Regions from separate parts of the Homo sapiens genome. Here region 2 is linked to region 1. The links come from fine-mapping of genetic effects on gene expression. A gene starts in region 1. The other region holds a variant in brackets. All regions are shown on one strand. Distances are between the middles of the regions. Region 1 holds the start of SPRYD7 (SPRY domain containing 7). Region 2 has its middle 65 kb from the start of KPNA3.

Evidence for each region. PIP is the estimated chance that this variant, and not a neighbour inherited with it, causes the effect.
Region 2: its variant is fine-mapped to the expression of SPRYD7 in fibroblasts (GTEx, PIP above 0.99). The same link has a PIP of 0.9 or more in lung and stomach.

What each region holds. Positions count from the first base shown.
Region 1 is chr13:49,928,072-49,943,891 of GRCh38, forward strand. SPRYD7 (SPRY domain containing 7) reads right to left here and starts at 8,269. Exons shown (of 5, transcript NM_020456.4): 1 at 8,059-8,269; 2 at 2,947-3,063; 3 at 1-14. The coding sequence starts at 8,164. RefSeq lists enhancers at 8,080-8,329, 9,200-9,249 and a silencer at 8,370-8,619.
Region 2 is chr13:49,849,995-49,865,814 of GRCh38, forward strand. No RefSeq gene overlaps it. Among named protein-coding and RNA genes, the nearest start is that of KPNA3, 65 kb to the left of the region's middle. The variant T/C (reference allele first, on the strand shown) is at 8,670.

The sequences.
Region 1 (15,820 bases):
AATACCCCAGATTCCTAAAAATATAACAGTTTAAATGCCCTCAAAATCTGAAGACTACAACCATCGAGTTATTTTAAAAGGGAGTATAAACTTTTTAAAGGAAGTGCTGTATTAACACTAAATTGTTTTCTATTACTCTTTTTAAAAAATCTTCTTTTAGAAGTAGTTTGCACCAGCCTGGGCAACATGCCCAAACCCCGTCTCTACAAAAAATACAAAAATTAGTTGGGCATGGGAGCATGTGCCTGTAACCCCAGCTACTCAGGAGGCTGAGGTGGGAGGATTGTTGGAGCCAGGGAAGTTGAGGTTGCAGTGATCCATGATCATTCCACTGCACTCCAGCCTGAGCGACAAAGCCAGACCCTGTCTCAATAAATAAAATAAAATAAAAGTAGTTTGCAAACTATACTATGTTCTCCACAGATGTAGTACAGCCTAGGAGATAAGAGAGTGGGCCCTGGAACAGTGCAAATGAGGATTAAATCTTGACTCTGCTACATCATCTTGCGCAAATTACCTAACCTCTCTTTGTTCCCTTATCTGTGAACTGAGGATTCTAACAGTACTCACCTTGCAAGGTAATGAAAAGATACAACAAGATAATCCAAGTAAAGCACTTGAACAGTGTAAGTACTCCACAGCATGAGAAAGTAAAGCACACAGTAAGTATTCAGAAAATGCTAGCTGTCATCATCATCATTATTATTATCTCAAAAAGATTTTTTAAAAGCTACACATTGAATTTAAATGGCCTGGAGTTCAATTTCAAGCTCTCCCTTTGAAAAGTGGGAATGTACTGTCTTCAGTTTTTACATCTACAATGAGTGACAAACAATATATACCATAAGCAATATCATGGAGAGGAGAAATTAACAATAAGGTGTAAAATCATTTTCTTACCCAGTATTTTAAGCCACCACACCCAGCTAATTTTTCTTTTCTTTGTAGAGATGGGGTTGTGCTATGTTTGCCCAGGCTGGTCTCAAACTCCTGGCCTTGAGCAACCCTCCTGCCTCAGTCTCCCAAAGCGCTGGAATTACAGGTGTAAGCCACCATGCCCCATTGAAAATCATTATTTAAAACTAATTTAGAGCTAGGCACGGTGGCTTGAGCCTGTAGTTTCAGCTACTGGGAAGGCTGCGGCAGGAGTACTGCTTCAGCCTAGAAGCTCAAGGCTGCACTGAGCTATAATCATGCCACTGCACTCCAGCCTGGGTGACAGAGCAAGACCCCATCTATAAATAAATAAATAAGTAAAAATAATTTAGAAAATAAGCCCTAGGGGGAAATTTTATATCATTCAAGGCTGGCCAAGTAATAGTAAGATTCATTTACTCCACTCTCATTTTCCTATTCTCTACCCACATTACTGATGCAGTATTTCACTAGAAGTTTATTTACAATAAAGCTTGTTTTGTTTTTGTTTTTGTATTTGTTTTTTTGAGACAGAGTCTTGTACTGTTGCCCAGGCTGGAGCGCAGTGGCACGATCTCGGCTCACTGTAACCTCTTCTTCCTGGGTTCAAGCGATTCTCCTGCCTCAGCCTCCCGAGTAGCTGGGATTACAGGCGCCCACCACCACGCCTGACTAATTTTTTGTACTTTTAGTAGAAACGGGGTTTCACTATGTTGACCAGGCTGGTCTCAAATGCCTGACCTCGTGATCCACCCCCTCGGCCTCCCAAAGTGCTGGGTTACAGGCGTGAGCCACCACGCCCAGCCACTTTTTTTTTTTTTGAGACGGAGTCTCACTCTGTTGCCCAGGCTGCAGTGCAGTGGCATAATCTCAGCTCACTGCAGCCTCTGTCTTCCGGGTTCAGGCAATTCTCCTGCCTTAGCCTCCCGAGTAACTGGGACTACAGGTGCCCACCACGATGCCTGGATGATTTTTGTATCTTTAGTAGAGATGGGGTTTCGCCATGTTGGCCAGGCTGGTCTTGAACTCCTGACCTCAGGTGATCTGCCCACCTCGGCCTCCCAAAGTGTTGGGATTACAGGTGTGAGCCACTATGCCCGATCACTTTACAGTAAAGCTTTTATTTTAAAAGTTTTCCCATATACAATACAGGCACAGTTAACTAACCTATTATAATCACATAGAATTGCTTTACAGTTCAAGAAACTCCATAAATTTTAAAAAGAGAAATATAGACTGCAGACTTCTATCTGAATTCTGAATTTGATGACTGCTTCAAAACACTGAATCAGGGTATCTTAATAACTGAGTTAAGAGAAAAACTCTGGCTCATGCCTGTAATCCCAACACTTTGGGAGGCCGACGAGGGCAGATCACAAGATCAGGAGTTTGAGATCAGCCTGACCAACATGGTGAAACCTCTGTCTCTACTGAAAATATAAAAATTAGCTGGGCATGGTGGTGCATGCCTGTAATCCCAGCTACTCAAGAGGCTGAGGCAAGAGAATTGCTTGAACCCGGGAGGCGGAGGTTGCCGTGAGTCAAGACCGCGCCACTGCACTCCAGCCTGGGTGACAGAGCAAGACTCCATCTCAAAAAAGAAAAAAAAAAAGAAAAACTCAGAATCAACAGATTGACTTTAATCCTAAAATAAATAGCAAGAGTATATGCTGCTTATATGTTTGACCTTATATGCTTGACCAAACAAGAGGGTTCATCCGGATCCCATTAAAAATACTAGTGCCTTATATTTATGCAGCATGTCTTGTCTTAAAACACTTTCATACATAGAGTTCCTGTGAGGCAGAATGGGCAGCTCCTGTAATACCCATTTTATAGATGAGAAAACTGAACCTAATTTAACTAAATTAACTAATTTACCCAGGATCACACAACAAGAGGTGGAAGACCCAGATCTTCTAAGAGTTTGGTGCTTTTATATTACCTTCTGAATCTTTTTTATGTGTTACAAATTACTCTTAATATTTAGAACAATTAGGACTTTTAATAGTAAAGTACCATTATACCAACCTGTGGACTGGATTTTGAATTCAAAATAGCTTTTGTTTTGATGTAAAGGTGCGCTGGCTAAACAACCTCCTGTTCCACATATTCTTCTTCCATTCTTTACAATAACAACATCTGTTCCTAAACAAAAAATGCAGACACTATGTAAAGTTTTGTATTTTCTTTTCTTTTCTTTTCTTTTTTGAGACGGAGTCTTGCTCTGTCACCCAGGCTGGAGTGCAGTGGCACGGTCTTGGCTCACTGCAACCTCTGCCTCCTGGGTTCAAGTGATTCTCCTGCCTCAGCCTCCCGAGTAGCTGGGACTACAGGTGTGCACCACCACACCTGGCTAAATTTTTATATTTTTAGTAGAGATGGGGGTTTCACCATATTGGTCAGGCTGGTCTTGAATTCCTGACCTCGTGATCCGCCCACCTTGGCCTCCCAAAGTTCTGGGATTACAGGCGTGAAGCACCGCGCCTGGCCAAGTTTTCTATTTTCAATCCAACAATCAGGATTAATTTGTTCAGTTCTAACTCAGTCCACAAAAAATAGGGACACTGTAAGTACTTTGAAATATAGCTGAATTATTTTAAATATTTAATTCACTATTTTTTCCTAAGAGAACATTTATAAGTAATATTCATTTGTATGTATAAGTTTTAATTAAGCATGCTGGGTACAGTGGTTCGTACCTGTAATCCCAGCACTTTGGGAGGCCGAGGTGGGCAGACTGCTTGAGTGCAGGAAGTCGAGACCAGCCTGGGCAACCTTGCAAAACCCCATCTCTATAAAAAATACAAAAATTAGCTGGTGTGGTGGCACAAGCCTGTAGTCCCAGCTACTTGGGAGGCCGAGGTGGGAGGATCACTTGAGCCTGGGAGGCAGAGGTTGCAGTGAACTGAGATTGCACCACTGCACTCTAGCCTGGGCGAGAGAAGTAAGTTTTAATTAAGCAGTTTCAAGTAAACTGCAATAACTCTGAATTATATTGAACGTTCAAAACACTTTTAAGGTAGAAATAGACTAACTCTTTTAATTTTTAGCCAGGAAACCAATTTGATGATTTCATAAATTTCTTAATTTAAACCAAAACATAAACACAAGAGACTTTAGTAAATTGGTAGTTTTCAATTCTATTCAAATGAATTAAAACAATTTACTAAAAGCCACCTGAATGCCTACTAAATACAAGCTACTATACTTGTGCATTAGTCATGTAAGAACTGAAGAGTACAGGGAATATGAAAAAGAACACACATCTATGTTGAAATACCTGACAGTGACAAACTGCTAACTTTAGGATCTTAAAATGTTTATTAAGATAGCTACTTCAATCACATTGCAAATATGTAAACAAGGTTTTAACATTCTTACATGCACTTTATTCTCGTAGAAAATTTTTTAGATGAAACGACATCTATAGATGAGAGTGAGAAAGAGAGACACTGTCTCCTGATGTGATCCTAGTACCAATTTGATTTAGGAAAATGTCTATCAGAGAATATACATAATTCTAACATGTAAGAATACACAGAATTACATAATTCTAATATGTAAGAAATAGCCCATACACCAATGCATAACTCCCCATACTTGTGGCCACTACCACCACTTTGCTGGCAATAACTGTACCAGCCAAGCAGATCTGAATATTCGAACTGTATGGGACTCTTCCAGAAGGGGTTAAATAAAATTAGGTCATAGTAACAAAAGGTTGAATTAACAGTTAAACAAAATTATTTGGTACAAATACATAAAAGAAATGCAAAATTTTCAGATTCTAACACAATTCTAAACTGGTTAAGAGATGCTCTCCCTTAAACAAGGCAAAACTGAGATCCTATTGTATGATTACTAAAAATTCATTAACATCTTTTTTTTTCTAATTAAAAAAGTTAACCCCCAAATTCTGGGAAAGTACCTTTATAAATAATTTGCATCTGGCTACTCCATATACCTCCAGTAATTTCAACTGGAGAGCATCCTCCTTGATGGCAAAGACCATGCAGTGCTTGGCATTGAGCAGCTGCTCATCAAATAACTGATAAAGGTTGAATTAATATGCTGTGCTAAGCACTTTGTAGTGGACATGCAGTATCTGTTCTCCCTCTCCCGACAGACTTCCCTCTGGAGATCAAAACAGTTCCAAGAAAGCTGACTCAATCTCTGCTTCAGGTGTACAACATTTGATCTAGGTTAAGGCAATCAGTGCCCTCCACATTTCTTGGCCACAGTAACTGAGTCAAGAACTGCTACATGACCTAATCAACTACAATCAGAATCTCAGGACTTTTGCAGAGCACAATGGGATATAACACTCTTGGCCAGGCGAGGTGGCTAACACCTGTAATCCCAGCTCTTTGGGAGGCTGAGGCAGGCAGATTACTTGAGGTCAGGAGTTCAAGACCAGCCTGGCCAACATGGTGAAACCCCCATCTCTACTAAAAATACAAAAATTAGCCAGGCATGGTGGTGGGCGCCTATAGTCCCAGCTACTCAGGAGGCTGAGACAGGAGAATTAATTGAACCCAGGAGGCGGAGGTTGCAGTGAGCTGAGATCAGGCCACTGCACTCCAGCCTGGGCGACAGAGCGAGATTCCCTCTCAAAAAAAAAAAAAAGAAAAAAAAAGAAAGAAAGAATATTCAGGGTGTTTATGAGTCATTAGGGAATCATTTTAAGCTTATCCCATTTCTCTTAAGTACACAGACGGTTTTAGAATCTGTACTTTTAATGATTGGTGCTGCTTAGACGGTCAAGGCAAATTTGAGTACAGCCAGAATGCCACATAAACATAGCCACAGAGGATGTTTTAAGAAACATAAATTTCCAAATGAGCGGTGTCCCTTTCAAAGTAGCTGCCTTGGAAGTCATTTGTTTCTAAAATGTCGATTCACAATTAAAAGCCAAAGATATGGCATCAATGATAATACTTACAAAAATTATGCCATAGAAAATTCCAAAAGAGGAATTCCAAAGTGGTTTTAAGTAATACAACATCACTAAAATAAGTGACAACCCTCGGAGAATCACTTGAAGTATACAGACAATTTTGTTAAAAAAAAAAAAGCAATCACATTTTTTAGGTTATTTAATATAATAATCTTTCACACCACCAAATCCATGTGTTTCTATTTTCAAGTCAAGATCAATTCATGCTTGAAACATGTTCTTCTAACTCAACAACCCTTTTCTTTCATTTTATTCAGGTTCTCAAATCAGGCTCCTCTGTGATTGAATAATTTAAGTTTATAGAAAGACAGGCTAAGAAAAAACTTCCTGGCCGGGCGTGGTGGCTCACCCCTATAATCCCAGCACTTTGGGAGGCTGAGAGGCAGGCAGATCACGAGGTCAGTTCGAGACCAGCCTGACCAACATGGTGAAACTCTGTCTCTACTAAAAATACAAAAATTAGCCGGGCTTGATGGTGGGCGCCTGTAATCCCAGCTACTCAAGAGGCTGAGGCAGAAGAATTGCTTGAACCCGGGAGGCGGAGGTTGCAGTGAGTGGAGATTGTGCCACAGCACTCCAGCCTGGGCAACAATAGTGAAACTCCGTCTCAAAAAAAAAAAAAAAAAAAAAAGAAAAGAAGAAGAAAAAACTTCCATGCAGTTAGAAAATTTGGAGATGACATTACTCTATTTCATCCAGTTAGTAGCTGACAGTTGCTGGACAGCTTTGGAGAAATAAAACACAGTGGAATGAGTATATCTGACCAGCTCTTCCTAGAGGAAACAGATGACAGAGAAAAGGAATGCTCCAAAGAGGAGACTGCAGTAATTCAAGAGTCTAACAGTAAAGATAGGAAGAAGTGCTGCAGTTGATCATGAGTTCCAGGAATTATGTATGGTTGTCCTTCACTATATTCTCAGCACTTATAACAATGCCTGCCACCTGATAATTGCTTAATAAATATCACTTCAGTAAATGAGTAACTGAAATGGAAATATTTTCTGAGGAAAACTATAGAATTTGAACTCCATCGTCTATAAATAATGATGGATAAAAAATAATTTAAAGATTACTTATGTATTAAGGTTCTGTACTACATTTGGGAGATCTGAGAATTAAAAGTAAATACACACATACAAGGTGATTATATAGTTATCACATTTAGTATGTGTTATACAAAAATACAGTGGGCAGAGTGTTTCCAGAATTATAAGGAAACTGGGCGAGAGAGTTTTATCATAAATATTAAGAAGTGCCTTTTTATTTCAATGCACTGTCCTTTAAACAATCAGAAACGTGTAAAAAATCAAAAGTGCAGAAGTACAGTTAGAATAAAATAATCCACAAAAAGACAGTACTCTAACTGAAATAATTATATTGGGAAATCTCTCCTTCTAGAACCACATTCCAGAAGCATGAAACTACCTGGGAAAAGTCTAAGAAATAATAAGGTGGTGAAAGAGGCTATGATGGGAGAGGAAGAATGTTAGATAAATTATATGGATTTGGAATTAAAAGGATAAAGCAAGATGCAAAGGAGCAAAGTGCTATTTTATTTTTCAACAGTTAGACCTGTTGGGAAGAGGCCAGTCAGATGAAATTACAGTACCTCTCACAATGACTAAGGAGTCGGGCAATGGGAGGTTTTAGTTGAAATGGCAAGTTCTGACCTGAGGTGCGACTTCAGACTTCTGCAGTCTGCCTTGTTTCGACTTTAGGAGGTGAGAGGAAAATTACTTCCAATAATATAGGATTCAACCTATAAATGATGGGGCTCAAGAGACAGGACCGACAGTCAGGGCAGGAGGAGGAGCAAGACCGGACCTAGAAGCATTCTGAAAATGTGTAGGTTTTCACTGGGGCGCGCCAGAAGGGCACTCTCCGCCCCCTCGCCCGAGGACGTGTGACATCTCCGGAGGAAGCCTCCGAGATTCCTGTGAAAATGGGAGGTCCACACGCCCATTCGCGATGACAGACACAGAGAGGGCTGCGCAGCCTTGAACACAGAACCGGGCCCAGGTGGAGTCCGCCGGCTTCTGGAGAGATCTGCGAGACGAAATGGTGTCGGCGCAGCGTCGCCGGCGCGGCGGGGCAGCGTGGGGACCCTCTGACCCTGAAGGTCCCCCTGCCCGCCGCGCCCGGCCCCCGTGAGCCGTTGGGTCTGGGGAAGGGAGGGCCCTTACCCATGTGCTGCGTGTCCAGCTGCACGGCCGGCATCTCCTTCAGAGGGATGTGGCCAGTCCCCCCGTCTCTGCAGCACCGCAGGCAGCACAACACCGAGGTGGCCATCGCGCAGGGACCACCGACTCCGCCGCCGTCCCTAGACCGAGGCGACACTGCCCCCCGCCGCTCAGCTCCGTCTCCTGCCCCCGCCCGAGGTCCGGACTTGTCTATGTGGAGCTCGGAGGCCGGTACAGCGACACCCTAGGCCGGGAGGGCGCAATGCAGGCTGAGCTTAGGCTGGCCTGCGAGGAAGACGCGGAGAATCAAGGGGCCGGGGAGAGACCGGACAGGGCGAGCGGCCGGGCTGGGCCGGGGAGACGGGTGGGGCTAGTGGCGCGCGGAGGCGTGGCAGGGGGCGTGGCGTTGCGGGCCTGCGGATGTGGGACGGCGTGCGCCTGCGCACCAGCTGGTTTTTTCTCCTTGGGCGGTTTCGCGCACGCCCCCAGGGCTGACAGGTGAGTGGGGCTGTCTGTCCCTCAGTACTTCCAGGGGTTTTCCTATGCAGAATTTTTAAAACGCAGCACCCCTTGGTCCCGGCCTCGACATTATTTCTAGGGATGGATTGACAGAAGCGAATCAGTTTGGGGGAAGGGGAGCTAATGGAAATGACTTCCGAGTTTTCCCTCCGCGGGCCCAGGTTGAGCAGGCTTTGCCACCACGGAGAGCCCCAGTCTCCCTGCCGTGGCTGGTTTCCCTCACATGCTAAATAGACTCACGTGGGCCCCAGGAGTAATGCCTGTTAGTGACTGCACTGTGGATGTTCACCGGGGCTCACGCGGGCCCTAATGCATTTTCGGTGCAGAGACGCGCCCTACCTGGCCCATCGGGCTGCGTGGTCCGGGGCGCGTGGGAGGCCGCCCTGGGAGCAGAACGCTGGGGCGGGGTCGGGGGCGATTCTTGACCTGCCTCTTCCAAGCTCCCCCTGTCTGGTGCACTGAGGGTTCCGAGGAATGTGACGGGAACCCAGGAGGCTGCGGGAAGTCTGCTGGGTCCCGAGGGAAGCCTTCGGCTCCTACCGTCCGCTACTTTCTGCTTCCACACGGGAGGCTGTCACCTGTCATCTCCTTCCCCACTTAGATCATCCTTCCGTGGTAGATTTTACATCTTCAGGCCGGGTGCAGTGGCTCACGCCTGTAATCCCAGCACTTTGGGAGGCTGAGGTGGGCGGATCACCTGAGGTCAGGAGTTCAAGACCAGGATGGCCAACATGGTGAAACCCCGTCTCTACTAAAAATACAAAAATTAGCTGGGTGCGGTGGTGCACGCCTGTAATCCCAGCCACTCAGGAGGTTGTGGCACGAGAATCGCTTAAACCCGGGAGGCGGAGGTTACAGTGAGCCTAGATCGCGCCACTGCCCTCCAGCCTGGGCAACAGAGACTCTGTCTCCAAAAAAAAAAAAAAAAAAAAAAAGATACCGCTTGGCATCTGGAAATGTCTGGGACGACCTCTAGAATTAACCTAGCTCAAACCTCTGTTCCCAGATCAGTTTCATCCTGAAGGCTTCCCTAGGGATGGATCATCAAGTCCTGGGAAACTGGACATAAAATGCCCACTACTTAAATAATGATTTCCCATACGTAACTTTTAGTGACCCGAGTTATAAATGTTTTTTAAGGAGGATTTCTATCTATGCAATGAGGGGAATTTTTCAGGTTCCTGGTTCTCTTTCTATAAATGGTGTTTTCATTACAATACTAAGGGAAAGTTTTGTACGTTGAAATTAAGTTACCATAGAATTTAATAACCAAGGTGATTATTAAACTGATTGAGGGTTGGTCTTTTCCCCCATTGCGTATGCAGTACTTTCTTGGTAATCATTTCACACAAGAAATTTTCTTTTATGACAAACCTTCATCGTTATGCTGGGAATTAAGTGCTTTGATTTTTTTTTTTTTTTTTTTTTTTAACCCCAGGGAAGTGCTGGGGGCGGGGCAGGGGGTGAGAATTTTAACAGAATATTGGAGAGACAAAATTTTTCTACCGTTCATATATATATATCTAGTTGAATTATTTCAAGATTTCAAGGTCAGTATTGTCCCCATTTTATAGGTGAAGAAATAGGCCTAGAGGTACTAAACTTTACAACTTCAGGTGAGCAGGAGATAAACAGGTAGGATTCAAGGCTTACCAGTCTGATTCCTGTTAGAAGAAAAACTTCAGCTGAACTAAATTTAAAGGAGTTAAACTGAGCAGTGAATGACTGGGCAGCCCCCAGAATCACAGCAGATTCAGAGAGACTCCAGGGATGCCTCGTGGTCAGAACAAATTTTTAGACAAAAAGAGGGAAGTGACGTACAGAAATCAGCAGTGAGATACAGAAACAGCTGCATTGGTTACAGGGGGGCGTTTGCCTTATTTGAACACAGTTTGAACAATCAGCAGTGTATGACTGGTTGAAGTATGGCCGCTGGGATTGGCCAAGACTCAGCTATTGTTACAGGTGCATACTCCTAAATTAGGTTTTCAAGCTTGTCTGCCTATTAACCTAGGTTACAGTTCGTACACAAGGACTCAAATACAGAAGTACAGAGTCCTTCTCAGGCCATATTTAGTTTGCTTTAACACTGCCTCTCAAATTCTTTCTCTTATAATTAATGCTATAATCCTCTTAAACATGCTCTCAGTTCAAAATGCAGATTTGCCCTTTTTTGTGTGTTTCATTTATCTCCACATTGGATATAAGCTGCCATAATGCATGTATAGACAAAATATAATAGAATTAGTTGTTATAAAGTAAAAATTTTGTTCAGAAATATTATTAAAAGAAGTACATGTATTATATATGTAATAAACATTTAGGCCATTCAAGTCAGTCACATCTTCAATGAAAAGCCAGACACTAAATGGCCGTGAATTGGACATTACTATAGAGAGGCAGAAGGGCCATAGTCTTTCCTAGCTGGAAAAGTAATTTGCTGGGGCGCTGCCCGGTGCACTTTGCCCCCATCCTAGCAACTCGAGTGTGCTCAGCAGAATGAAGTTAGCAAAACTGGTTAGCTCCTGAAACAGACTTCCCTGTCTTGGCAGATTAACACCATCCATGAGCTCACTTTTCCTTCTAATATCTGGGATTCTAATATCCATTCATTATTACTTTCAAAGGAATTATCCTCTCTTTTTGAAAAGCACAACGTTAAAGATGTTTTGACACTCTTTCACAGCTATCGCTTTAAATAACAATCACAAATAAAGCCAAAAATAGTTTCTCAAGGTCATTTATCTAAGTCATAAGCAATAAGAAAGAATGACTACTTCAAAAAAAGAGTCTGTCTGCTTCCAAGACATGCCAGGAACTCGAGAACTGAGAACAATAATGTAAAGCTTGTGTTTCAGAGTTGAGATTAGCATTATGCTTAAGATTTTCTTTAATGTTTTTTATGCCAGCTGGACGTCTTCTGTTAGTGAATTTCCCATTCTGTACTGGGTCATACGAAATGAGTTTTTAAAAACTCATTAATCAGTTATTAAACAAAACATTTTTCCTTAGACTAATCCAAACCACATTTGTGATCTTTTTAAAAATCAGAAACATTAACAAAAACTCATTTTTCTAAAAACTGACATATTTCTGGAGCCTTGACCAATTCATTATTATAATTTTGAGTAACTAATAGTGATTGACATTTATGTAGTGCTTATTATTGCCAGGCACTGTTCTAAGTGTTTTTTAAAAATAAACTAATTTAGTCTTTGTAACAACCATGTGAGGGAAAAACTATCCTCCACTTTACAGATGAGGAAGCTGAAGAAAAAATAAGAAATGTACTCAAAAGTTGCACAGTCAATGAAGGATGAAGCTAAATTCAAACAGACATTCTGGCTCTAGGGTCTGTGTTCTTAACCACTCTGCAAACTGCCTCCTAGGGTGTTACATTTAAAAATACATTCCTAGGTCTGGTGCGGTGGTTCACGCCTGTAATCCCAGCACTTTGGGAGGCCGAGGGATATGGACTGCCTGAGCTCAGGAGTTCGAAACCAGCCTGGGCAACATGGTGAAACCCTGTCTCTACTAAAAACAAACAAAAAAATTAGCCGGGCATGGCAGTGTGTGCCTGTAATCCCAGCTACTTGGGAGGCTGAGGCAGGAGAATCGCTTGAACCCAGAGGCGGAGGTTGCAGTGAACCAAGATCGTGCCATTGCACTCCAGCCTGGGTGACAGAGCAAGACTCTATCTCAAAAAAAAAATAAAAAAATAAAAAATGAATATACATTCCTAATTTGTATTTGTCTCCTTCTATCCCCTTTCCTCAGAGACTGACATTTAAATTTACTTGGCATGAATTGTGCTCATTTAATCTGGATTTCCTGAATTATAAGTTATATTACCTAGATTGAACAACCAAAAATAAATAAGGAAAATAACGTCAACCTTGTAACTGCAACAGACTGCCATTAGTTGGTTCTCTTAGCGGTGCCTTTGAATATTAATATTTTGCAGGTTTGTCCTTAACAGGCTGTCTCTACCGGAAAAAAAAAACGATATTTAGTACTTTTTTTCTTCTTTTTCTTTTTTTGAGACAGGGTCTCACTCTGTTGCCCAGACTGGAGTGCAGTGGCACCACCACGCCTGGCTAATTTTTTGTGTTTTTTATAGAGATGGGGTTTCACCATGTTGCCCAGGCTGGTCTTGAACTCCTAGGCTCAAGGGATCCACTCACCTTGGCCTCCCGAAGCGCTGGGATTATAGGCATGAGCCACCCTGCCTGGCCTGTTTAGTACTTTTTTTTTTTTTTTGAGACAGAGTCTTACTCTTGTCGCCCAGGCTGGAGTGCAATGGTGCGATCTCAGTTCACTGCAGCCTCTGTCTCCTGGGATCAATCGATTCTTCTGCCTCAGCCTCCTGAGTAGCTGGGATTACCGACGCCCGCCACCACAACCAGCTAATTTTTGTATTTTTAGTAGAAACGCACTTTGGGAGGCTGAGGAGGGCGAATCACCTGAAGTCAGGAGTTTGAGACCAGCCTGGTCAACATAGTACTTTTAATTGCTAAGACAGGTAAACCAGGTTGGAGACTTGGAAAATGCAGAGACTTGGCATTAGGAAGAAAAAGAAGCTGGGGTAAAATAAAGGAATTTGAAAAAGGTACAAAAGAAATAAAAATAGAACAATTTTTTTAATATTTAAAATGAAGAAAAAGCAATAGCAAGTGCTACATAAAAAAGGTCTCAGAGAATAGAAAATGTGATTTACCAAAAACTTTCAACCTAGAACTGTACCTTATTCTGCTTACCTTCCATGGAAAATAAAGCAGACTGTCATAAACCAAGGGGATTTCTGTGATCCCTGCCCAACCTCAAGTTCCCTTACTCGAAATGCAAGTACCCTAGTGTATTTCTAAGTACTTTTCCTTGCCAATTTAGATTCTAAGTACTACTGTGGCAATAATTAGCGAAAATAGATACTGAGGATACAAAAGGGAGACAAAGCAAAGGTCAAAACCAAAGTAGTTTTTTGCATTTTCAAAAGAAATAAAGGAAGATGAGGACAAGTAAAGTTCGTCCTTGGATCTATGCTCCTTATTAACAGGAGGGCATTTAAACCTGTGACTTTGTAGAAAGGGCTGATGAGAAGTGTGTACAAAGTTTTCATGGCCAAAGATAAGGCTACATAATCTGGTATTATGGGAGAAAGGCTGGAGAACACTTAGCTGTGCCAAATAGTTCAAATAAAAGCTTCCCAAAGCATCTCAAGCATTCAAGTGATTCTGTGTCTTTGAAGTACAGTAGGGGTCAAGGAGCAAGAAGTCACCATCTCCAGATTATAAAGTGAAAAAGTACTCGACATTTGCAGAAAGGACCAGACAGAAGAAAAAAACACTTCTGGGTATATATAATATCTGCAACCAAACAAAATTATAAATATTTTGTTGAAATTGTGAGAAAGACCCTAAAATATTTCTAGTAACAAGGAAGGTCACATGGATTATTAAAATGTACCCAACATTACTAATTTAGGATAGATACAATGCCATTTAGTCTCTATAATTTTATTTTTGTGAATGTAAAAATATTTATAAAGTTTTTCAAAAGGCTCCACCTATAGTGACAATCCCTTCAAACCTATTTTCTCAATAATGGCCCTGCAGATGAATATCCCCGGGACTGTCAGAAACCTGCCTTTTGTGTTGAGAAGGAACTGCTATACTTCTGTTAAAGCAAGTGTGTCTATGGTTGTAGATATGGTGCTGGATAGAATTAGTGTAGTTCTGGGGACAACTGCTAAGCCACTATGCTTTACAGATTCTGTAACCTGAGTCATAGGGAACGTGGGACTACTTAAAATTGTTGGTGAAAGTTTATGAAACTCTGGATTGTTCGAAAAATGCTCAAAACAAAAAACAACAAAAAAAAGAAACAACCCTATGAGAGTTGGGTATGATAGTACATGTGTGTAGTCCCAGGTACTTGGAAGGCTGAGGTGGGAGAATCACTTGAGCCCAAGGGTTCAAAGCTGTAGTGAGCTATGATGGCACCTGTGAATAGCCACTGCACTCCAGCCTAGGCAGTGTGGCAAGACCCCATTTGTAAAACAAGAACAAAAACGTGAAATAACTTTGAAATACCAAGAGTTAGTGAGAAGAAGCTCCAGGGATATGTTTATGGCCAAGAGAACTTTAGTGTAGCAGAATAGATTTGCAGAGAATTTAGTATAATTAAAATACTTTTTTCTTATTTTTAGCTATTCCAAACTTTTAACCAAATCCTTTTTTTTTGAGACAGAGTCTCACTCTGTCGCCCAGGTTGGAGTGCAGTGGCGCGATTCGGCTCACTACAAGCTCCGCCTCCCGGGTTCACGCCATTCTCCTGCCTCAGCCTCCCGAGTAGCTGGGACTATAGGCGCCCGCCACCATTTTTTTTTTCTATTTTTTTTTCTATTTTTAGTAGACACGGGGTTTCACCGTGTTAGCCAGGATGATCTCGATCTCCTGACCTCGTGATCCGCCCGCCTCAGCCTCCCAAAGTGCTGGGATTACAGGCGTGAGCCACCGCGCCCGGCCCAAATGCTTTAAGAATTATTTTACATCCCTTCTTAAGTAGGTAAACTTCCTGTTTGTAGATATCATGTCTTACATCTAATGCAGATATCAGTCCACATCAAACATTTAATACATTCTTAAAAAAAATATGTGAAGCCTTGGAAAGGAAGAGAGAAGTTAGGAAGATACTTTAATCTTTCCAATTTCTTAGGAAAAAAAGGAAAATTCCATTTTATATGTTCTTAATTCAATGATGTCTGCTATGTAGTGAGCACTCTGTAAATATTTATAAAAACAACAAATGAACGAAGCCCCCCAAATAAGTAAATATGTTTTTTTGTTTTGTTTTGTTTTTTGAGACGGAGTCTTGCTCTGTTGCCAGGCTAGAGTGCAGTGGCCCAATATCGGCTTGCTGCAACCTCCGCCTCCCAGGTTCAAGTGATTCTCCCATCTCAGCCTCTTGAGTAGCTGAGACTACAGGTGCATGCCACCACGACCAGCTAATTTTTGTATTTTTAGTAGAGACGGGGTTTCACCATGTTGGCCAGGATGGTCTCGATCTCTTGACCTCGTGATCCACCCGCCTTGGCCTCCCAAAGTGCTGGGATCACAGGCGTGAGCCAACACACCCGGTCAAGTAAATACATTCTAATTACACCTCATTTCATCCACAACCCAGAAAGTAGTATGTAAACTGAATTCTTAGAAAAACATTTCCACGTTAAATGCACTAGGGCAGGTTG
Region 2 (15,820 bases), 78 kb before region 1:
GATGGAGTCTCGCTCTTTTGCCCAGGCCGGAGTGCAGTGGCATGATCTTGGCTCACTGCAACCTCTGCCTCCTGGGTTAAAGTGAGTCTTCTGCCTCAGCCTCCTGAGCAGCTGGGATTACAGGCGCCTGCCACCACACCTGGCTAATTTTTGTATTTTTAGTAGACATGGGTTTCACTATATTGACCAGGCTGGTCTCAAACTCCTGACCTCGTGATCCGCCTGCCTCAGCCCCACAAAGTGCTGGGATTACAGGCGTGAGCCACCACAACAGGCCTATTTTTCTTATTCTTCAAGCACATCTGCTCTTCACACATGTCAGACTCACAGCCTAGTACATGACACACATTAGGCCCTTAACAAATATCTGAAGAAGAAAAGGAGGGAGAAGAATCACAAGGGAAGAAGTGCAAAGGGATGGGATTGGAATAGGGGAACTCTTGAAAAAGTGATGTTTCTGGAAAAGGAGGATTTCATGGTACCCACTGGGGGAGAATATTAGTGCAAATAGTGCCCAATGATGGATAATCATCCAGGGATTTGCCTTCCAGTGATACCACATAAGGGCATCAAATCACATTCACAACCTTAAATTTAATAGTTGTGCATGAGGTGAGGACGAATTACCTTGGGGTATCAGTTCCCCTTCCCACCAAACCCCCAGAGCTGGCACATGACAGTCCAACAAGGTCTCCTCCGAATGCTGAGTGCCCTGGAAGGCAGAGTGAAGCTCTGACCCCATTGTGTTGTGAGGTGGAGAGTAAATGACAGTGGTTTCCTTGTGCCCTGGCTTGTTTCTCCCCCTTGGGCTTCATCCATTCTCACCCTCAGAGCTAACTGGGGCTGACTGGGAATGAGCTAATTAGGACTGGCCTTTCCCTATATGTGTTCCCCAGAAAAGGAGCATATACCTTCAGGAAAACATGAATTCACAGGTCAAAGTAGCAGATTTCAGAATCACAACTATGTGAAATGAAACATAGCATTTTAGATTACAGAATCCAACTATATATATAAAAACAGTTGCATAGATAATGTGATATTGGCCTAATAAATATACAAAAAGAGATAAAAGAAGATAATGACAATGTAGATAAGAACAAGAAAACATAAAAAAGCAATATTAGATAAGTAAAATATCATAGTTGAAGTGAACACATCACATGGATAAACAACAAAATGGATAGAGCTGCAAAACTAATTGTCAACTTGGAAGACCAGGCGGAGGAAATCTTTCAGAAGAGATAAGAAAATAACAAAGACGTATAAAATATAAAGAAAAAACTAGGTTATGTGGAAGACAGAAGTACTAACATCTAGGTAATAAGAATTCTAGAAAGAAGAAAAATGAACAGAAAGAAATGTTTGAAGAAAAATGAGATAATCTTCCATAACTGTAAAAAGATGAAAGAAAGATAAAAAAGGTTATAGAAAAAAGATAAGAAAAAATCCACACCAGAACATTTTATAGTAAAATTAAGAATTTCAAGGCTGGACATGGTGGCTCACACCTTTAATCCCAGCACTTTGGGAGGCTGAGGCAGGAGGATCACTTGAGCCCAGGAGTTCAAGACCAGCATAGGCAACAAAGTGAGATCCCATCTCTACAAAAAGTTTTAAAAATTAGGCATGGTGATGCATGCCTGTAGTCTCAGCTACTCAAAAGGCTGAGGTGGGAGGATCATTTGAGCCCAGGAGGGTGGGGCTGCAGTAAACTGTGATTTCACCACTGCATTCCAGCCTGGGTGACAGAACAAGACATCATCTCAAACAAACAAACAAAAAAACCCAACAACAACAAAAAAAAGAATTCAAGGAAAATTCTAAAAGATTATAAAGAGAAAGAGAACATCACAAAAAGAGGACTGAAGTCAGATTGACATCAGATTTTTTTTTTTTTTTGAGACAGAGTCTCACTCTGTCACCCAGGCTGGAGTTCAGTGGCACAATCTCTGCTCACTGCAACCTCCACTTGCCAGGTTCAAGCAATTCTCCTGTCTCAGCCTCCTGAGCAGCTGGGACTACAGGCACCTGCCACCATGCCTGGCTAATTTTTTTTTGTATTTTTAGTAGAGACAGGGTTTCACCATATTGGTCAGGCTGGTCTTGAACTGCTGGCCTCAGGTGATCTGCCCACCTTGGCCTCCCAAAGTGCTGGGATTACAGGCGTGAGCCACCAGGCCCGGCCTGACATCAGATTTTTTAACAGCAACAACTGATGTAAGAAAACAGTGGAATGAGCTGGGCATAGTGGCTCACACCTGTAATCCCAGCTACTCCAGAGGGTGAGATGGGAAGATTGCTTGAGACTAGGAGTTTGAGACCAGCCTGAGCAACATAGTGAGACCCCATCTCTAAAAAAATATTTTAAATTAGCCGGGCACAATAGTGCACTCCTATAGGCCTAGCTTACTCAGGATGCTCAGGTGGGAGGATCTCTTGAGCCCAGGAGTTTGCGGCTGTAGAGAGCTATGATTATAGTATTGCATTCCAGCCTGGGCAATAGCATGAGACTCCATTTCTAAAAAAAAAAAATAAGAGAAAGAAAAAGGGAAAAAAAAAAAGAAAAAAGAAAAGAAAAAAATGGTGGAGGAATGGTATGGTATTCTCAAAATAATAAAGGCAAAGAAACCATCCTCAATTTTATTTATTTATTTATTTATTTATTTATTTATTTATTTATTTATTTTTGAGACAGTGTCTCGCTCTGTTGCCAGGCTGGAGTGCAGCGGCACGATCTTGGCTCACTGCAACCTCTGCCTCTTGGGTTTAAGCAATTCTGCTGCCTCAGCCTCCTGAGTAGCTGAGACTACAGGTGTGCACCACCACGACCAGCTGATTTTTGTATTTTTAGTAGAGACAGGGTTTCACTATATTGACTAGAATGGTCTTGATCTCTTGACTTCGTGATCCTCCCACCTCGGCCTCCCAAAGTGCTGGGATTACAGGTGTGAGCCACTGCGCCTGGCCTATTTATTTTTTTGAGATAAGAGTCTCGCTCTGTTGCCCAGGCTGGAGCCTGGTGGTGCAATCTCCACTCACTGCAACCTCCACCTCCTGAGTTCAAGCAATTCTCCTGGATTAGCCTCCCAAGTAAATGGGACCACAGGTGTGTGCCACCAGGCCCGACTAATTTTTGTAATTTTAGTAGAGATGGGGTTTCACCATGTTGGCCAGGCTGGTCTCGAACTCCTGACCTCAGGTGATCCACCTGCCTTGGCCTCCCAAAATGCTGGGATTACAGGCGTGAGCCACCATGCCCTGCCCATCCTCTATTTTTATATCCAGTTGGCCATTCAAAGATAAGGGCATGATAAAAAAAAATATTATCAGGCACAGAAGTTCTCAGAAGATTTACCACACAAAGGCTATGCTGAAAACTATTTTAGATGAAAGGCTTAAATAAAGGGAGAGTAAATCTAGTAGATACTGCCAGAGATATGTAAAGTAAAGATGACCAAGTACACCGGTAAAATTTCTTTGACTTAAAAGAATAGCCAAGACTAAAGAAAAAGAGAACTCATAGACACAATAATCTGGCATCAAAGTGTAGATAATAACATGATGTGGATTGGGGGCACAGAGATGAAGAGATGAGTGTATAAAGTTTTGTTCTTATGGGGGAAGAGATAGTTACCAATTTAAAGAAATGGTTAATAATATATATAGAAAAAGTGAGTCAGACTGAAAAAAAATAAAGTGGTAGAAACAGGTCCGAATAAATAATTACAATAAATATAAATGAACTAAACTCATCAGTTAAAGACAAAGATGGAAAAATGTGATATAACAAAAATTCAGGTATGTGCTATTAACAAGAGATAAAACTAAAGCATAAGGAATTGCAAAGACTCTAAGTAAATGAATAAAAAAGATATCAGTAAAATACTAATCAAAATAAAGCTGGTTTATCTACAGCAATATTAGATAAAATGGACTTAAAGGCAAAAAGATACATAGCATGTATGCATTTAATAAAGCAAAAGGTGGCCCAGGGTGATGGCTCACCCCTGTCATCCCAGCACTCTGGGAGGTTGAGGCAGGTAGATCACTTGAGTTCAGGAGTTTGAGACCAGCCTGGGCAACATGGCGAGAACCCCATCTCTGAAAAAAAAAAAAAATGCAAAACTTAGCCAGGTGTAGTGGTGCATGCCTGTAGTCCCAGCTACTTGGAAGGCTAACATGAGAGGATCATCTGAGCCTGGGGAAGTTGCAGTGAGCCATGATCATGCCACTGCACTCCAGTTGGTGATAAAAGAAAAAGATTGATAAATGTTGCTTTGTTAGAGAAAGTAAAAAGTTATATATAGAAGATATTCAAAACACATAAAACTGGCAAAGGACTGGTATCATAAAGAACTTCTGCAAATCAGTAAAAGAAAAAACACATAAGCAGCCCAATAGGAAAATGGGCCAAAAAAAGAACTGTTTTCACAGAAGAGAAAACACATGATCAATAAACATATGAAGAGATGTTTAACATAATTAGTAATTGGGAAGTATAAATTGAGACTACAGTCCGGGTGTGGTGGCTCACACCTATAATCCCAGCACTTTGGGAGGCCTAGGTGGGCGGATCACGAGGTCAGGAGATTGAGACCATCCTGGCTAACATGGTGAAACCCCGATTCTACTAAAAATACAAAAAAATTAGCTGGGTGTGGTGGCACGCACCTGTAGTCCCAGCTACTCAGGAGGCTGAGGCAGGAGAATGGTGTGAACCCGGGAGGCGGAGCTTGCAGTGAGCTGAGGTGGCGCCACTGCACTCCAGCCTGGGCAACAGAGCGAGATTCCGTCTCAAAAAAAAAAAAAAAAAAAATTGAGGCTACAATGGCACACAATTTTATACTCATTCATCTGGTAAAAATTTGAATGGTCTGATAACACCAAATCTTATCAATGCTGGTGAGAATGTAAAATTGTATAACTACTTTGGAAAAGTTTGACATTTTCTCCTAAATTTGGGCATTCATATACTATTATGGGTTGAATTTTGTCCCCTAGAATAAAATGTTAAAATTCTAACTCCTGGAACCTTCAATGTGATCTTATTTGAACTTTGCAGATGTGAGTAGCTAGGTTATAATGATGTCATACTGGGCCCTAAATTCAATAGGACTGGCATCCTTATAAGAAAAGAAGAGGCCAGGCACGGGTCTCATGCCTGTAATCTTAGCACTTCGGGAGGCTGAGGTGGGTGGATCACCTGAGGTTAGGAGTTCAAGACCAGCCTGGCCAACATGGTGAAACCCCATCTCTACTAAAAATACAAAAATTTGCCAGGTGTGGTGGCGGACGCCTGTAATCCCAGCTACTTGGGAGGCTGAGGCAGGAGAATTGCTTGAAACTGGGAGGCGGAGGTTGCAGTGAGCTGAGATTGCACCATTGCACTCCAGCCTGGGGGACAAGAGTGAGACTTCATCTCAAAAAAAAAAAAAAGAAGAAGAGGAGAGACAGAGACAGAAACACACAGAGGAGAAGACCATGTAAAGACAGAGATAGAAATTGGAGTGATGCATCTACAAGCCACGGGGTGTCCAGGGATGCTGGCAACCATCAGAAGCCGAGAGAGACATGGGACAGATTTTCCCTCAGAGGCTCCCATAGGGAACCAGCCCTGAGGACACTTACTGTGAGATAACACATTTCTGTTTTTTTGAGGCACCCAGTTTATGGTAATTTGTTAGAGCAGCTCTATGAAACTAATACACATACTCAATGACCCAACAATTCTACTCCTAGGTATAGACCCAACATAAACCATTTCATGTGTACAAGTGACTGCATAAGGAAGTTCACAGGATTTCAGTTCACAACAGCAAAAACCTGCAAAGAACCTAAAAGCCTAACTATAAAAGACAGAATAAATAAATTGTAGTAAATCCACGCAATGGAATGTTATTCAGCAGTCAACATGAATGAACTATAGCAATGAGGGGGTCTATCTGCAGACCCTGACCCAAACGATGGATGAATGAAGTACACTGACACACAGATATTCTGCTATGCCAGTCCAGCTGAGTGTCTGGGCCACTTACAGACTCCAAGCAGAGTGCTGTAAACAGTCACGACCATGGCCCTGACCAACTAGTGAGACTCGCATTTATTTAGTAAAGATGAATTGACAAAGGCTTGAGTCAACACCACCAGAGGGTAATTGACATTGTGGACTTCCTGTAGAAAGTAATTAAGCACCGGTGGTAGATCAAAGGTTAGTCTTAAACAACCTAGCTAGATACACTACTCTGCCTTCTTCCTTACCCACTTGAAGCTTTTTACTCAAGGTAAGGATTAGGTTGCCTTCAGCCATTGTCTTATCCTGAGACTTCTGTAAAAACCTTCAGGCCTTCCAAGAAAGTTTGTGTTTATTTTTATAACTATCTTTAATATTTTTCCCACCAGCCTGATTGAACTCCCACATAACAACACACAAAAATATGAGGAATCTTAACAATATAATAATAATAAATGAATCTAAAGAGTTTACATATTCTGCAATGCATTTTTAATAAAATTTATGACCAAGATAATAGTTCCTTTTTATGAATGCAAATACGTGCAATTCAACTATATGAAATGGAAGGCAAGGAAATTGTTTTTTTATTTTTTTGCAAACACTATGGTGACTTAAAGGCAAGGAAATTGTTAACATGGAATTCAGCAATATGGCTACCTTGAGTAGACAAAGGCAGAGGGACACGATGGGAAAAGCAACCATATGGTTAGATGTAGGTTGTTGTCAAGGTCTTAGTTTTTGCTTGAGATGGTGGGTTCATGAGTATTTATCTATGTCTACAGCTATGTTTATATGTATATTAACATAACAATATTTAATGGAGGAGGCCACTTAAGGACCACAGAGGAAAGTATGCCATAAATAGGATTAGAACTAATTCTTTTTTTTTTTTGTCTTGAGACAGAGTTTCACTCTTGTTGCCCAGGCTGGAGTGCAATGCCGCGATCTTGGCTCACTGTAACCTCCGCCTCCTGGGTTCAAGTGATTCTCCTGCCTCAGCCTCCCAAGTAGCTATGATTACTGGTGCCTGCCACCACACCCAGCTAATTTTTGTATTTTTAGTAGAGATGGGGTTTCACTATGTTGGCCAGGCTGGTCTTGAACTCCTGACCTCAGGTGATCCACCCGCCTTGGCCTCTCAAAGTGCTGGGATTACAGGTGTGTGCCAACGCATCTGGTAGATTAGAACTAATTCTAATCCAATCCTGTGCATCTGGGGCTAAACATCCCCCAAATTGTTGGGCTTTCCCAGATTTGTCCATGATTCTACAAACTGGTGCTTCTGGCTAATTCTGATTTTCACAAGGGTCTGGAAATTGGAATATTTTTTCCACGCTAACTCTATGACCTGCAGTGTGGCTAACCAATCTAGACCAAACATGCAGCTCTGGATTGTTCAGGATTTAGTGTGCCAATTTAGATAGAAAGCTCAATTAATTAAAATAAAGAAGCACAGAGACCAAAAGTTCATTGAGTTCAAGTAGAATCAGCTCAATGGGTGGGAAAAAGAAAAAAGAATCAGTTCCTATAAAAAAGGACAGCATAGTTGCTAGAACCCTCTAGAGATGTACAGATATTAGATAGTTTTGGCAGGAAGTGGTGGCCAAAATACATGAAACAACAACCTGAAAAAATAAGAGTTAATCAGGGATTACAGCAGGGATGAAAACAAACAAGCCAAAAAGCCACAGCAACAACAAAAACAGGTGGAAGATAACAGGAAAATCTAATCTTCACTGCCCATGGGCTGGAATGTAATGTTTTGGCTATGTTTTTCTTCTTCTTTTTTTTTTTTTTTTTTTTGAGACGGAGTTTCGCTCTGTCACCCAGGCTGGAGTGCAGTGGCGCGATCTTGGCTCACTGCAAGCTCCGCCTCCTGGGTTCACGCCATTCTCCTGCCTCAGCCTCCCGAGTAGCTGGGACTACAGGCGTCCGCCAACACGCCCGGCTAGTTTTTTGTATTTTTAGTAGAAATGGGATTTCACCGTGTTATCCAGGATGGTCTCGATCTCCTGACCTCGTGATCTGCCCACCTCGGCCCCCCAAAGTGCTGGGATTACAGGCGTGAGCCACCGCGCCCGGCCTTGGCTATGTTTTTCTTGGTAAACATCTCTACTATCTGCTTTTGAAATGATGGAGCTACCTTTCAGTTTTAAAAACAATATATTTCAGGCATCTCAAGTAATCCACAATCTGGAGGCAAAAGTCAAGACTGAGTTGACAGAGCACAAATCTGTTTCATTTGACTACATTAAAGAGGTTTGCATTCTTTCAAGGGCTTACTAGCGAGTTGTTCAGAAGCAGTACTGACACGGGGGCCTGGGATTGTTGAGGGATGCTTATGCACAGAGAGGAAGGTTTGCTAATCCAGGAGCACTGAATCATCATGATGTAAACTTGCAGGACTTCATGGCTTCAGTGATACATCATTGATCTTTAATTCCAGTCCACAGAACTTTTTTTTATGGTAAGGAAAAGGATATGGGAAGAAAAAAGTATTATAAGCATGTTTCTCATATTTCTTCCCTCTTTTACCCTATAAATAAAAGAGCAAAGGTATTACTGAGCAAATGTTCTCTTGAAAAACTTGATTTCTTCTTATGCTTGGAAATTTTGCTATAGAGATAGTCATTGCTACTGTTTACAGTAGACA[T/C]TCCAACCCTGAAAACTAAACTCTGAAGTATTTACTATGCTTAGATAAATCACATATTTGTCCTCATGAGTACAGCCTGTTCAGGTTTGTACATACCATTGCGTAATTCCCTAAGAACTCTTTCCAATTTAAAAGGATGACTTTGGACACCTTTGTGGAAGTTGATAGGAAAGATTTTTGCTCTTTAAAATACTTGTTAAATAGGCCAGTTAAAAGTATGCTTTGTACTGAATTTTGCCTTTATCAGTAAAGGCTCCAAGAATGTTGATAAAATAAGAGAAAAAGAAATTGGGCTTTTCTCCTGCCAGAATTGGAAGGGAGAGACCCAAAACTAAGAACGGAAAATCTGTCATAATAATGGCAGAATCCTCAAAAGAAGATACACAAATAAATGCAGCTGAGGAACCTGGAGACTTCCCTGGTTTCTGTCCCTTGTGAGACTTCAAATCATAAAATACCCTAATATCTTTCTGTAATCTTCTGTCATGTTCTAAAATGTCTAAAATATTGAAACAGTCCTTATTATCAGAAAAAAGTAATCATGAACAGAGCCCAGAATATGGTATAAAACATTACCTTACTGTTCTCATCATGTCATTGTTCAGTCCTACCTCCAAACAATGTCCCATGAGAAAACCCAGAAGACATCTCCCTCACTAAAGCATTGAGAAATGCATTAATAAATGGAGCACCTGCAACCTCTTTCAAAGGAGAGCTCTGTGGTTGCTCTCTTCTATAGGGTAGGTGGAAAATATGCCATTGACATGGTCTCCCCAATTTCAATGATGGGATGATGGGATCTCAGAGTGGCATAGGTAGGGGTGGCACTGAATCTCCAAGGACAAAGTAAATGCATCCACTGTAAAGGGCAATCAGAATGCTTTGGCCTGCAGACATATTTGATGGTGGTTAAGTTATGGTGTTCTTAGGAATGAAATAGATGGGCAATCTACCATTGTATTGCTTGATCTGTAACAGAGGGAAAAATTCTAGGTCTGGTAGCTAAAAACCTGATGAGTCACTGCAGTGGACAGTCATGGCCTCTTGTGTTGAGATCTAAGTCAATTCACAGAGCCAAAGCTCCTTGATTAAAGAGGAGGCTGGGAGCCAGGCACAGTGGCCCATGCCATCCCAGTGAGTCAGGAGGCTGAAGCAAGAGGATTGATTGCTTGAAGCCAGGAGTTTGACCTCAGACCCTACGAAAAAATTAATCTAAAATGTCGGGGCGCGGTGGCCCATGCCTCTAATCCGAGCACTTTGGGAGGCACAGGTGGGCAGATCACAAGGTCAGGAGTTTAAGACCAGCCTGGCCAACATGGTGAAACCCTGTCTCTCTAAAAATACAAAAATTAGCTGGGGATGGTGGCATGTGCATGTAATCCCAGCCACTTGGGAGGCTGAGGCAGGATAATTGCTTGAACTGGGACCCGGGAGGCGGAGGTTGCAGTGAGCCAAGATTGCACCACTGCACTCCAGCCTGGGCTACAGAGGGAGACACCATCTCAAAAAAAAAAAAAAAAAAAAAAAATCTAAAATGGATCATAGATCTAAATGTAAACCTAGAATTATAAATCTACTAGAAAAAATATAGGACAAAATCTGTGGGACCCTGGCATAAGCAAAGTTTTCTTAAGTAGAACACAAAAGAAGATATAAAAGAAATAGATGGGGCTTGGCATGGTGGCTAACATGTGTAATCCCAGCACTTTGGGAGGCCAAGGTGGGCTGACCACCTGAGGTCAGGAATTCGAGACCAGCCTGGCCAACATGGTGAAACCCCATCTCTACTAAAAAAAAATTAGCCGGGCATGGTGGCACATGCCTGTAATTCCAGCTACTCAGGAGGCTGAGGCAGGAGAATTGCCTGAAGCTGGGAGGTGGAGGTTGCAGTGAGCCGAGATCACACCACTGAACTCCAGCCTGGGCCACAGAAGAAAATTCCATCTAAAAAAAAAAAAAAGAAAAAAAAGAAAAAGAAATAGGTAATCAGTTGGGCTTCATCAACATTTAAAACATTTCTCTTTGAAAGTCAGTTAAGAAAATGAAAGTCAGCTAGGTGTGGTGGCTTACGCCTATAATCCCAGCACTTTGGAAGGCCAAGGCAGGAGGATCACTTGAGCTCAGGATTTCGAGACCATCCTACGCAACAGAGCAAGACCCCACCTCTAGAAAAAATTTTAAAAATTAGCCAGGCAGGGTTGTGCGTGCCTATAGTCGTAGCTATTTGGAAGGCTGAGGTGGGAGGATCACTTGAGCAAAATCAAAACTGATTTTCATTAAATCTCAAAGTAATCTGTTGACTGAAAGAAACCAAACAAAGATATATATTGTATTATTTCACTTATATGAAATTCTTGAAAATAAAAACTAACTTATGTAGCTAGACTGCAGATCAGTGGTTGCCTGGGGACAGGTTAAAAAGTGCAATGAACTGCAGACAGGTATGAGAAAACCTTCAATGGCAATGGAAATGTTCAGCATCTTGTTTGTGGAGATGGTTTCATAGTTACATATGTTTACCAAAACTTATCAAATAGTGAACTTCAAATATATGCAGTTTATTATTCAAAATTATACTTCAATAAAGTTGTGAAAATGGGAGCGGGGAAGCAACAAATACTGGTGTGAGTCAACAGCATGAACCATATCACCTTTTCTCATTTTCCAGAAGTATGCTGAGTTCCTTGGTCAGCCAAAATAACCACCCTCTCGCCCATATGAGAGGATCTTCCTTGTCCATTTTCCCCCATAGTACCTGTCATTTTTTTTTTTTCTGCTGCTATAACAAAGGACCACAGATTGGGTCACTCATAAAGAAAAGAAGTTTAGGCCAGGCACAGTGGCTCACACCTGTAATCCCAGCACTCTGGGAGGCCGAGGAAGGATTGCTTGAGCCCAGAAGTTCAAGACCAGCCTGGGCAACATGATGAGACCCTGTCTCTACAAAAAATACAAAAATTAGCTGGGCATGGTGGTGTGTGCCCATAGTCTCAGCTACTTGGGAGGCTGAGGAGGGAGGATTGCTTGAGCCAGGGAGGTTGAGGCTGCAGTGAGCTGTGATTGTGCCACTGTACCCCAACCTGGGCAACAAAGCAAGACCCCATCTGAAAGAGAAAGAGAGAGAGAGGGGATAAAAAAGAGAAAGAAAGAAAAGAAAAGAAAAGAAAAGAAAAGCTTACTTGGTGTTGCGGGAAGTCAGGGACCCTGAATGGAGAGACTGACTGGAGCTACGGCAGAGGAACATAAATTGTGGAGATTTCTTCTTAATATGGACATTTATCAGTTCCCAAATAATACTATTATAATTTCTTATGTCTGTCTTTAATCTCTTTAAACTTTAATCTCTTAATCCTGTTATCTTGCTCACTGCAAGCTCTGCCTCCTGGGTTCACGCCATTCTCCTGCCTCAGCCTCCCGAGTAGCTGGGACTACAGGTGCTTGCCACCATGCCCAGCTAATTTTTTTCTTTTTGTATTTTTAGTAGAGACGGGGTTTCACTGTGTTAGCCAGGATGGTCTTGATCTCCCGGCCTCATGATCCACCTGCCTCGGCCTTCTGAAGTGCTGGGATTATAGGCATGAGCCACAGCGCCCGGCCTGATCAGAACATTTTTTAATGAAAGGATCTAGAAAGCAACTTGGAAGTGTAAATAGTCACCTTCATTTTCTCTAACTTGATCAAGACTAGTGGGTCCATGGCCCTGTGTTAGTTCATGCATTCATCTCAGACCCAAATGAAAGTTTCAACTCCCAAAATGCAGTTCCTTAGATGCTCGTCTGGACGTGATGACGTGCCCGCCATATAAGAAGGTGCAATCATAGGTATCACAGGTAGCCAGATAGAAGACATTTTTTTCTCCCAAAATTATTCCTTGGAGTGGGGAGTGATATGGGGGAAGAGCTCCCATCTTAAGGGGCACACACTGAGTTGCTTATGCTACTTCCTTGTTCAAAATGAAGTAACTGCCTTAATCTAAAAAAAGAAAAGAATATTTACAACACTGAAAATGAATGAACTACGATTTATGTATAGCATGGATGAATTTCATAAACATTGGACAAAAGAATCCAGACACAAAATAGTGGTTGCCTTTGGGCAATATAGAAGGGTGCAAGTGGAAGTAGCCTCAAGAAGTTTTCTGGGGTGCTGGTAAGGTTCTATTTTCTAAACTATGTGGTGATTAAATATGTGTATTCACTGTGTGGTAATTAATCAAACTGTTTACTTTTTTTTTTTTTGAGACTGAGTCTCGCTCTATCGCCAGGCTGGAGTGCAGTGGCTTGATGTGGGCTCACTGCAACCTCTGCCTCCTGGGTTCAAGTGATTCTCCTGCCTCAGCCTCCTGAGTAGCTGGGATTACAGGCGTACGCCACCACACCCAGCTAATTTTTTTGTATTTTTAGTAGAGACGGGGTTTCACCATGTTGGCCAGGATGGTATCAATCTCTTGACCCTGTGATCCACCAGCCTCGGGCTCTCAAAATGCTGGGATTACAGGCGTGAGCCACTGCGCCCGGCCAACTTTTAAAAAAAAATTTAGGTAAAACCCACATAACATGTAATTGACTATCAGCCATTTTAAAGTGGACAATTCAGTGGGATTTAGTGTATTCACAACGTTGTGCAACCACCACCTCTGTCTAGTCCCAAGATATTTTCCTCACCCCAAAAGGGAACCCCACCCATACCCATCAAGCAATTGCTCCTCATTCTTCTGAGCTGTTACTTTTCTACACTTTTCTACAAGCATGTTTTACTTCAATTTAAACTTTAGCCCATGAAATCTAGGCAAGACGAGGAGGAGAATGAAGTCATATAGGAGCTGATGAATGTCAAGCCATGGTGGGGTGGGCCACTGGGTTGAAGATTTTGAAAAGGTTGAAGAAGTATGGTAGTGGACGCACTTGAGTAAGTGAATTGAAAGGAAAGAGGTAGTGGTCAGAGGGTAGGATGCTTAAATAAAGATTTCACAAATGCGTTCATTTCTGTTGATCCCAAGGAAGTGACCGTGTGAGTGTGTAGCTGAGGTGGAATGGTGAAAAAGATCATTGAGGACACATCTGTTAAAGACCTAAGAAGCCAGAGCATTGAATGGTTCAACTACATGGCGTTAGGTGGTTCCAACCAATCAATGCTGAGGTCACAAAAATGGGTAAAAATGACATGGCAGGAGTTGGGGAGGAGGGGAAAAGCAGGAAGCTAAGTGCAAGTCTCTCCTGCATGGAGGGGCATCGCCAAGAAGTAGCTCACAGCTTCAAGGAGGAGGTCAAGGGAGTTAGATGACCTGACCTTCAGAAGAGCTGAGGATTTTGGAGGAGGGAATAGGAATTGGAAACTGCAACTGCAGGCCATGAGGACACTGCCTAATAATGCCACAGTGGCCTTGGGGACAGCCATGTTTCAGGTAGGGCAGGAGAAGAGATGGAGGATGTGGGAGAGTTTAAGATCACAGAGAGGAGCTTCTGAGAACACAGCGAGGTGTGGGAGAGGCAGTGCTTGCATCATATTGGAGGACAGACATGGCAACACAAAGACAGGTAGGTTGGGGGTGACTGGAAAACAGGATGGAGGCTGGACTGGATTCAGCCTGAAGATACACTCAGGGTGAGGGTGGCAACCAGACCCGACGACGTGTGTCCTGGCAATTTCTCTCCAAGAAACCACTAGTGATGAAGCAGTGCTTTAGGTGCTTGGGGGTTGAGCACCTTCCTGATATGTAGTGTTAACAGCTTATAAATGGCTATGTGTGACTTTTTTTTCTTCTGATCAACGCTGGTCCTTAATCACCATGTTGGATTACCTCCTGCTATGGTTTGAGTGCTAGTCCCCTGCAAAACTCATGTTAAAATTTATTTGCCATTATAACAGTATCAAGAGGTAGAACTTTTAAGAAGTGATAAGACTATGAAGGCTCCATCTTCATGAGTGGATTGATGTTGTTATAAAAGGGAGAGTTTGACCCTCTTTTGTCCTCTCTTGCCCTTCTGCCTTTTGTCATGTGATGATGCAACAAGAAGGCCCTCACCAGATGCCAGCACTTTGACACTGGACTTCTCAGCCTCCAGAACTGTGAGCTAATAAGTTCCTGTTTATTGTAAATGACCCAGTCTCACATGTTGTTATAGCAGCACAAAAATGGACTGAGACACCTTAAGAGGGAGATACATGCTGCTGTGGTGGATATATTAGAGATTAATTTAGAAAGATTATTAAATCACTGAAGACCTTTTAAAAATTGATTTTCTTTGGCCAGGAGCGGTGGCTCACACCTATAATCCCAGCACTTTGGGAGGCCAAGGTGGGTGGATCACGAGGTCAGGAGATCGAGAGCATCCTGGCTAACACAGTGAAACCCTGTCTCTACTAAAAATACAAAAAATTAGCTGGGTGTGGTGGTGAGTGCCTGTAGTCCCAGCTACTTGGGAGGCTGAGGCAGGAGAATGGCGTGAGCCTAGGAGGCGGAGCTTGCAGTGAGCTGAGGTAGCACCACTGCACTCCAGCCTGGGTGACAGAGCGAGACTCTGTATCAAAAATAAAATAAAATAAAATAAATTTTCTCAACTACAAAGATAGTGAGATCACAATTATTATCATGGTCCTTAAGATTTTTTTGACATTGAAAAGTACTTTGTAAAGCATATATGTGATAAAACACTTGAATTCAGACTACATAAAGAACACTCAAAACTCAACAGTAAGAGAACAACAACCTAATAATGGGGAAAAAATTTGAACAAACACTCCACCAAAGAAGATACACAAATGGCAAACAAGTACATGAAAAAATCTCAACGTCATCAGTCATTGGGAAAATGCAAACTGAAACCACACACAGAAACTGTGAAAATTAAAAAGACTGACCATGATTAGCTATGGCAGGGACATGGAAGAACTGGGACTCTCATACACTTCTGGTGTAAATATTAAATGGTTAAATGTTGGAAAACAGTTTGGCAGTTTGGTAAGAGCTAAATGTACACCTACTGCATGATCCAGCCCTTCCACTCCTAGTATTTATCCTGAGAAATGAAAACATACGTCCACACAAAGACTTGTGTGCCAATGTTCATAGCAGCTTTATTTGTAACATAACTAAACTGGGAATAGCCCAAATATCCATTAACAGGTGAATAAACAAATTGCGATACATC